Linked DNA regions of Homo sapiens: region 1 is linked to region 2. Evidence: fine-mapped expression QTL. Tissue or cell type: whole blood. Region 2 holds a variant in brackets; the other region holds the start of a gene. All regions are shown on one strand. Distances are between the middles of the regions.

Evidence for each region. PIP is the estimated chance that this variant, and not a neighbour inherited with it, causes the effect.
Region 1: it holds the start of CUEDC2, and the variant in region 2 is the best candidate, but not a certain one, in a credible set for the expression of CUEDC2 in whole blood (INTERVAL, PIP 0.81).

What each region holds. Positions count from the first base shown.
Region 1 is chr10:102,430,211-102,434,595 of GRCh38, reverse strand. CUEDC2 (CUE domain containing 2) reads left to right here and starts at 2,022. Exons shown (of 9, transcript NM_024040.3): 1 at 2,022-2,070. RefSeq lists enhancers at 387-1,020, 1,021-1,656, 1,588-1,757, 1,928-2,057.
Region 2 is chr10:102,174,229-102,178,613 of GRCh38, reverse strand. No RefSeq gene overlaps it. Among named protein-coding and RNA genes, the nearest start is that of NOLC1, 24 kb to the right of the region's middle. The variant A/G (reference allele first, on the strand shown) is at 1,747.

The DNA of each region.
Region 1 (4,385 bases), 260 kb before region 2:
TGTTTTTATGGGCAAAGCGACGCGAATGTGCCCCTTCCTTCCCTGCTACCTCCCCCAAGCAGCCAACATCTTGCTGTCTCTGAGGCCAGAAGAGGAAGGAGGCTGTTGTGAGGACCAGAGGTGGAAGAGAAAGCAATAAGCAGTCATCCCGTTTTCTCCATAGTTTCTTCTTCTTCCTTCTCCTTCTTTTCTTCTTCTTTTTTTTTTTTTTTTTTTTTTTTGAGACAGGGTCTTGCTTTGTCACTCAGGCTGGAGTGCAGTAGCACAATCACGGCTTACTGCAGCCTTGACCTCTGGGGCTCAAATGATCCTCCCACCTCAGTCTCTGGAGTAGCTGGGACTACTGGCGTGTGTCACCATGCCCAGATAATTTTTTATTTTTTAAATTTTTTGTAGAGACGAGGTTTTGCCATGTTGCCCAGGCTGGTCTCAAATTCCTGGGCTCAAGCGATCCTCCCACCTCAGCCTTGCAAAGTGCTAGAATTACAGGTGTGAGCCACTGCAGCATAGTATCTTGGCACTGCCTTAGTCCCTAGGAGAGAGGAAAGATGGGACTTCTCTCTTGGACTGTGAGCTCCCTGAGGGCAGGGACAGCTTCCGGGTCCCCAGCACCCCACGAAGGAACTAGCACTAAAAAGGGCTCATCCCTGCTGATGGGGGATGGGAAATTTTATCCTTGAAGGGGACTCTTCCCCTTGTGACCCATTTCAGGGTTCCCAAGAGGGGAGGGCTGTGGGGCTTCCCCACAGGGCAGCACCGGGAATCTGTGGCAGCAGGAACAAAAAGAGGAAGTTGAAGTCTTGTTGGGCCCTGGAGTTCAGCTCTCCTGTCCTAGACAAGCAGCCCTGCCAACATGGGGGATGAAGGCCCCGGGGGGTAGGCATGGTCTACAGGCTGTCCATGACAGGGCTCAGGTGGATCCTCATCCTGGCACCTGCTACCACTCCACCTCTCCCAGACCACGTCCAAAATCCCAGGCTCCACCCTCCGGAGACACAGACCTGTAGCTCACCCCAATCTAGGGGAGACATTGCTGTTAAGGGAATGCAAAAGGTACAGACAGGGTGGGGAAGTCAGTACCTAAGAGACCAGCCTGGGCCACGTGGCAAAAACCCTGTCTCTACAAAAAAAAAAAAAAAAAAAAAAATTAGCTCGGCGTGGTGGCACGCGCCTGTGGTTCCAGCTACTCCAGAGGCTGAGATGGGAGGATCACTTGAACCCAGGAGGTCGGGGCTGCAGTGAGCCATGTTCGCACTCGTGAACCTGCACTCCAGCCTGGGGCTGTAACAGCAAGAAAAGAAGAAAAAGAAAGAGAAGGAAGGAAGGGAGGGAGGGAAAGAAAGGAAAATAAAGAAAGAAGAAAAGAAAAGAGGCCAGGCGCGGTGGCTCATGCCTGTAATCCCAGCACTTTGGGAGGCCGAGGCAGGCGAATCACGAGGTCAGGAGTTTGAGACCAGCCTGGCCAACATGGTGAAACCCCGTTTCTACTAAAAATACAATAAATTATCTGGGCGTGGTGGCGCGCGCCTGTAATCCCAGCTACTCGGGAGGCTGAGGCAGGAGAATCTCTTGAACCCGGGAGGCGGAGGTTGCAGTGAGCCGAGATCGCGCCACTGCACTCCAGCCCGGGAGACAGTGCGAGGCTCCCTCCCAAAAAAAAAAAAGAAGAAGAAAAGGAAAAAAAAGTGAGAGAGAGAGAGAGAGAGAGACGAGAAAAAGAGAGAGAGAAAGAAAGAGAAAGGTTTCGGGTCTCTGACGGATGAGAAGGAACAAGACGGGGATGCAGTCCTACCCACTTCGACTCCACCCCCTCTCAAGACCTTCACGCCTAACGCCTCCCTACGCGCAACAAAACTGGCCGCCAAGGGAGCCCGTCCATAGCCCTGGGACGTTAGAGAATTAGAGCAGGAGCTCCGCCCTGTTGTGGGCAACTTGCCCTTCTCAAACATGGCCGCCACGGCGCCTCTGGAAGGGAACCGCTCTGGGCCCCGCCTTTGATCTCGTTGGTGGGGCTGGGGGATGAGAGCTGCACCGCGCGGGACAAGTCGCCGGCGGCGCCCGACGGAGCAGGTGATTTCCCCTCCTGCCCCCGGCCCAGGGCTAGGAGAGTCGCGGAGAGCGCTGACCCAGGGTACCCGTCCGATGTGTTCCCCCACGGTACCCCCCCCGGGGCCCGTCGGACCCCCATCTCTGATTCTCGCCGTGGCCTGTATCAAGGCACATCCAGTTTGCTCAGGCCTGCCTCGTCATGTGTCCTCCAAGGCCACAGCCGCATCCCTGTGCCTTCGGGCCCACTATTCTGGACGCTTACGGGTGTCCCGCTAGCGGGTTTAGGGAGCTGCTGCTTCAGGGGTCGTCCATCATCGCGGTCCCACTTCCTGTGCTCGCCCTCCCTGTTTGTGCTCCCGCCTGACTTTGGATGCAGGGATCCCTTGTTCCCCTCAATGCCCTTGGTGCCTCTAAGGTCTGACTTGGGTATCAGAGGACAATGATATCCTCTGGGGCCTGCGTTATGGGTCCAGGGCCTCAGGAACCGGGCTTCACAGGGGCTGGGAGAAGCAGTGAAGACCTTCCATGCTAGACCCCTTGCTGCCTCCCTGAGAAGTTCGCTAGGACTCCTTTCACACTAGCTCCCAGGATTCCTCCTCCCACATGGCCTGCTCTCCCTCCACTTTAAGCACCTCCCCACCCCAAGGGAGCAGCATAGTACTTCTTACCCCACTCTCACTTAAATTTGTCCACAGTGTCTCTATCTAGCATCTGGAGGGTCCAGGCCTGTGCTGCCCTTGGGAAGCTCCCAGGCTAGCTGGGAGCAGTGAAGGTGGGGCAGTTAGGGTTGGCTGCAGAAAGGGAGTCCTGCAGAATGAGATTTGGAGAGGCAGAGGGACAGATGCTCTGGGCTGGGAGAGTGGTGTGAGCAAAGATTCTGAAATAGACAATATAGCCAGCCAGGCAGGAGAGGAGATTCAGAATATAGGATGGGGCCACACAATTTGCATCGTGAGAGGTGATGTAGTGTGGTGGTTAACAGTGAGGGTTCTGGATCCAGACAGCCTGGGTGTAAATCTGCCATTAACTTGCCTTGTGACCTTGGGCAAGTTACTTAACCTCATAGTGCCTTCATTTCCTTTCAGGTAAAATGTGGATAATACGGCCGGGCGCGGTGGTTCATGCCTGTAATCCCAGCACTTTGGGAGACCGAGGCGGGTGGATTGCCTGAGGTCAGGAGTTCGAGACCAGTCTGGCCAACATGGTGAAACCCCGTCTCTACTAAAAAATACAAAATAAATTTGCCAGGCATGGTGGCATGCGACTGTAATCCCAGCTACTCAGGAGGCTGAGGCAGGGGAATTGCTTGAACCAGGGAGGTGGAGGTTGCAGTGAGCTGAGATCGCACCACTGCACTCCAGCCTGGATGGCAGAGCGAGACTCCGTCTCAAAAATACATAAATAAATAAAATAAATAAAATAAAATGGGGAGAATAACAGTATCTACATTTTAGAGTTATTGTAAGGATTAGGTAAGTTAATACATGTAAAAGTGCTTAGGACAATGCCTCGTAAGCAGAGGCAATAAATGCTAATATTACCATCATCGGAGGCATTTAGGCAGGACTCATGACAGGATGACAGTCACATTTGGTAGACACCATCAACCAATGATCTCTAATTTGCGGCCCCCAAGAAGCAATGGGGTTCTGTGGGCTACATCTGGAATTTGAAATGTCTCATGGAAATCATGTTCTTACCCTGGAGAAGGGTGGCTGCTTAGGTGCTACTTAGGAAACCAGTCTGGCAGACCAGATCTTCCCCAACTCAGGGGCTATGCGGGGAGAAGTATTAGGAGCCCCTGAGCAGGAAGGATGTACTTAGGAAGGCTACCGGGGATGGGGAAGGGTAAAAGAGCTTAGAAGCCTGGGTGAAGTTTGGGTAGACCAAAAACAGGAGGAGGGAGGGAGGATGTTCCCTTGGAATACAAACTAGAGAAAAGCTTAGGGGAGCAAGTCTTTTTATTTGGGGACAGTGAAGAGTTTCCTAAAAATTCCCTGGCCCCCAGGCCTTGGCTAAAAACCCAGAAGCATGAGACACATCCCTGAGAAGCTTCTTCCCTAGAAACTGGGCTCTCAGGCCGGGCACGGTGGCTCACGCCTATAATCCCAGCACTTTGGGAGGCCTAGGCGGGCAGATCACCTGAGGTCGGGAGTTCGAGACCAGCCTGACCAACATGGAGAAACCCTGTCTCTACTAAAAATACAAAATTAGCCGAGCATGGTGGCACATGCTTGTAATCCCAGCTACTCAGGAGGGCTGAGGCAGGAGAATCGCTTGAACCCAGGAGGTGGAGGTTGCGGTGAGCCAAGATCGCGCCATTGCACTCTAGCCTG
Region 2 (4,385 bases):
CACACAAAATCTGAAGCCCTTCTGGATAAGGGATACTCAACCTGTATAATGAAGCTGAGATAAAAATTAATGGAGTCTGGTAAAAGAAATTAGAGGAGAGTAAAAAAAAAAAATTTAATGGAGTATCATAACCCAGTATCACACAACTACTAGTGCTACAATTCAGACACGGGGCCCTTTGGTCCTTTCCACTGCTCTCTGCTGCCTTTCTCAAATGAAAAAGAGAAAATGAAAAGAAACTTTCTCCAACTTCCCAGGCCCCTTTGCTTTTTGTCCTGGAGTTGCTCTGGCCCGGGCAGGCTCACCATCATCACTCCTGGGGCTGCCTTTCTAGTCCCGCTCTCTGGAGACCTCTCCAGAAGCCTGGAGCTCAAGTGGGCTTGCAGATGCAAGGTCTGGGGTCCCTCTGTGGAGAACCTGGAAACACCTTCTCAGGGTCCACGGCCCCCACAGCCACTCTTTTCCCTTTTGTCTTGCAGGTTTTGTATTCCTCAGAGCCCTCTTTTTTCCATCTCTCTACTTTTCTCCTTCTACGTTTCTCCTCTCACCTCACCTGTCCCAAGGAAACACAGCATTCTTCTTTAAAACAACAACAACACTTTGTATGTGTGTGTGAAATACAGCAAACATAAACATGAAGCTTAATGGATAATTCTAAAGCACTACTCAATTCAAGAAAAAAATTTTTTAAAGTCCTGGTGTGGTGGCTCATGCCTATAATCCCAGCACTTTGGGAGGCAGAGGTGGGCAGATCTCTTGGACCCAGGAGTTTGAGACCAGGCTGGGCAACATGGTGAAATCCCATCTCTACTGACTGGATGGTGATACTCACTGGATGTTTAATGATACCAACTAATTACTATACTGATAATTCTTTTTTTTTTTTTGAGGCAGAGTCTCATTCTGTCGCCAGGCAGGAGTGCAGTGGTGCAATCTCAGCTCACTGCAACCTCCGCCTCCTGGGTTCAAGTGATTCTCCTGCCGAGTAGCTGGGACTACAGGCGCCTGCCACTGCGCCCGGCCTGATAATTCTTTTAAGTGTGAAAAGTAAAGCCTTTTTCCTTAAAGGCTTAACTTTAATTTTTTTGAGATGGAGTCTCACTCTTGTTGCCCAGCTTGGCATGCAGTGGTGAGATCTCGGCTCACTGCAACCTCCACCTCCCAAGTTCAGGCGGTTCTCCTGCCTCAGCCCCCCCGAGTAGCTTGGATTATAGGCATATGCCACCACGCCCGACTAATTTTGGTATTTTTTGGGGGGGGAGTTTAATTACATGATTGTAATTATACAATTTCCACTATTCGATATTTTGTATAAAACCAGTTACAACTCACAAGATTTTCAAATGTGACAATATGTATCAAACTACATATATATGCAAAGTTTACAGGCCATTAGGCAGCTTTATCCTAAAAATACCTTCAGGAAAATAAACATTCATTCAACCAGTTCTCTTGGCTTTAAAGAATATGATTAGAAATATACACTATAGGGGGTGGGCTCAGTGGCTTACGCCTGTTAGCACTTCGGGAGGCCGAGGTGGGCGGATCACGAGGTCAGGAGATCAAGACCATCCTGGCTAACACGGTGAAACCCCGTCTCTACTAAAAATACAAAAAATTAGCTGGGCGTGGTGGTGGGCGCCTGTAGTCCCAGCCACTCGGGAGGCTGAGGCAGGCGAATGGCGTGAACCCGGGAGGCAGAGCTTGCAGTGAGCCGAGATTGCACCACTGCACTCCAGCCAGGGC[A/G]ACAGGGCGAGACTCCGTCTCAAAAAAATAAAAAGAAAAAAGAAATATACACGGTAAAAAAAAGTCAAGATAATGATTGATCAATACTGATCAGTTACATTTTAAAACTTTTAATAATCTGTACATGAGTGCAGGTTAGATAAAAGTCAGCAAATTATTTATAGAAAACTGCAGTACTATCATCGGATGAACATGTCTGCTGACAATTCTACCAGGTAATTAAGGAGGTAATTTCCTACACAGTACAGGTGAATTGTCCAGTCTTTAAACATACCTGGAGTCATCTCCACTCAGTGACGTGGAGAATACCCTGATGTGGGGAAATGGAAGAGCAGCTGCTAGCCTCCCCAAGGCAGTTTCAGCGGGAGAGAACATTTAAAGGAACAATAAAATAGGTTTTAAAAGTTGCTTTTGGGCCGGGCGTGGCACTGCACTCCAGCCTGGGCGTCTGAGAGAGACTCCGTTTCTCAAAAAAAAAAAAAAAAAAAAGTTGCTTTTGATAAGCACTGCTTTCCAAAATGCAATAATGATTTTTTTTAATGTAGAAAGAGAAGCAGTGAGCTATGTTAAGAACATACATCCAATGAGTGCACTGTGGCTTGGACGGTGACTGGGAAAAAGACCCCAGGAGAGCCCTCGGGCCACACGCAAGCCCAGGCCATCCAGCCCAGGGAGCACACAGGCTTCGTGACAATGGTTGAGAACTCCTCTAAAACTTGCCTAGGCCCAAGAAAAGAGTGGTAGCAATCACCCCTGTGAGAGGGCTAGAGGGGAGGGGAAGAAGGAGGTGGGGGACAGGCTAAGGGCATCAAGCTCAGAACGGGGGAATTCTGGAGGCTGGCAGAGCTGCGTGTTGCCGGGAAGCACTGGCTACGCCAGGCCATTCCGCTCTTACGAGGCACCGCTCCCCACCAAGTTCTACAAAAAGCCACATCTGTCTGTACTTCCAGGAACCCACTTTTACAGACGTTCTTCCTTCGGACTGTCCCTGACTCTTGATAATTTTGAGTCCCCAGAAAGCTTCAAGGGCACCTAAAAATATTCACTTCTAATTTTAATTACATGGCAAACTGTCCCGGTGTACTTTCAGGGCTATTTAAGGCTCTTAAGTTAAGGGAATCTCTCCATCTGACACACACAGTTTCATGTTCCATAGCAACAAGGTCTTCTATAACAAGGACTCTTAAGTCAGAATCCCAGAAGATTCTGGGTGTTCGTGGTTTCAGTTGGAGGTGAGGGGAAGAGTCCACTCTCATTCAGAGCAGGAAGAACTGTTCATCCTTCAGATCCAGAGACTTCCTGGATTCTAGAGACGGCCCCCATAAGTGTAACACTGTTGCTATGCAAACCGTCCCATCATTTGGTTATTACAAGGAATGCTTCTTCACCAAATCACAAGTTTCCTATGACTAATTTCAGTGAGCCAGTTAAATAGAAGGATTTTTAGAAAGAGCCACAGTGGGCCGGGGGCGGAGGCTTACGCCTGTAATCCCAGCACTTTGGGAGGCCCAGGTGGGTGGATCACGAGGTCAGGAGATCGAGACCATCTTGGCTAACATGGTGAAACCCCGTTTCTACTTTGTATTTTGTAAAAATACAAAAAATTAGCCGGGCGCCGTGGCGGGCGCCTGTAGTCCCAGCTACTCGGGAGGCTGAGGCAGGAGAATAGCGTGAACCCGGGAAGCGGAGCTTGCAGTGAGCCGAGATCGCGCCACTGCACTCCAGCCTGGGCAACAGAGCAAGACTCCGTCTCAAAAAAAAAAAAAAGAAAAAGAAAAATAAAGAGCCACAGTGATAGCAATTCTACGTGGAAACTTGAGCAGGCAACATGAAGAGGCAGTTTATAAATGAAAAAGGACTGTGGTTCCGCTGACACCCTTCCTTTTCTTGGACGAAACACCAGGAGGCTTGTTCACCATGAGGGAGACAGTACCCACAAGAGCCGTGGGGCCCACATGTTTACTTGTTCTGATGGGATGAAAAATTAGCTGGGCATGGTGGTGTGCACCTGTAGTCCCAGCTACTCAGGAGGCTGAGATGGGAGGATCATTTGAGCCTGGCTGGAGGTTGCAGGCTTGGGGTTGCAGTGACCCCAGATTGCACCACTGCACTCCAGGGTGGGGAACAGAGTGAGACTGCTTAGAAAAAAAAAAAGTCTTGTTTTTGCTTCAGAATTATCCAATGGGAAGTGGGAAGGGGAATGAGTTGGGCTAATAAGAGATGAAATAAGATGGGCTGTGTATTGTTAAGAGCTGGATGGGAAGATGGGGCTTAATTATACTGTTCTTCCTACTTTGGTAAGTATGTGAAAATTTCCCTAATAAAATCCTTTTTAAAAACACACATACGGCCGGGCGCGCTGGCTCACACCTGTAATCCCAGCACTTTGGGAGGCCGAAGCAAGCGGATCACGAGGTCAGGAGATCGAGACCATCCTGGCTAACATGGGGAAACCTCGTCTCTACTGAAAGTACAAAAAATGAGCCGGGCGTGGTGGCGGGGGCCTGTAGTCCCAGCTACTCGGGAGGCTGAGGCAGGAGAATGGTGTGAACCCGGGAGGCGGAGCTTGCCGTGAGCCGAGATGGCACCACTGCACTCCAGCCTGGGCGACAGAGCAAGATTCCATCTCAAAAAAAAAA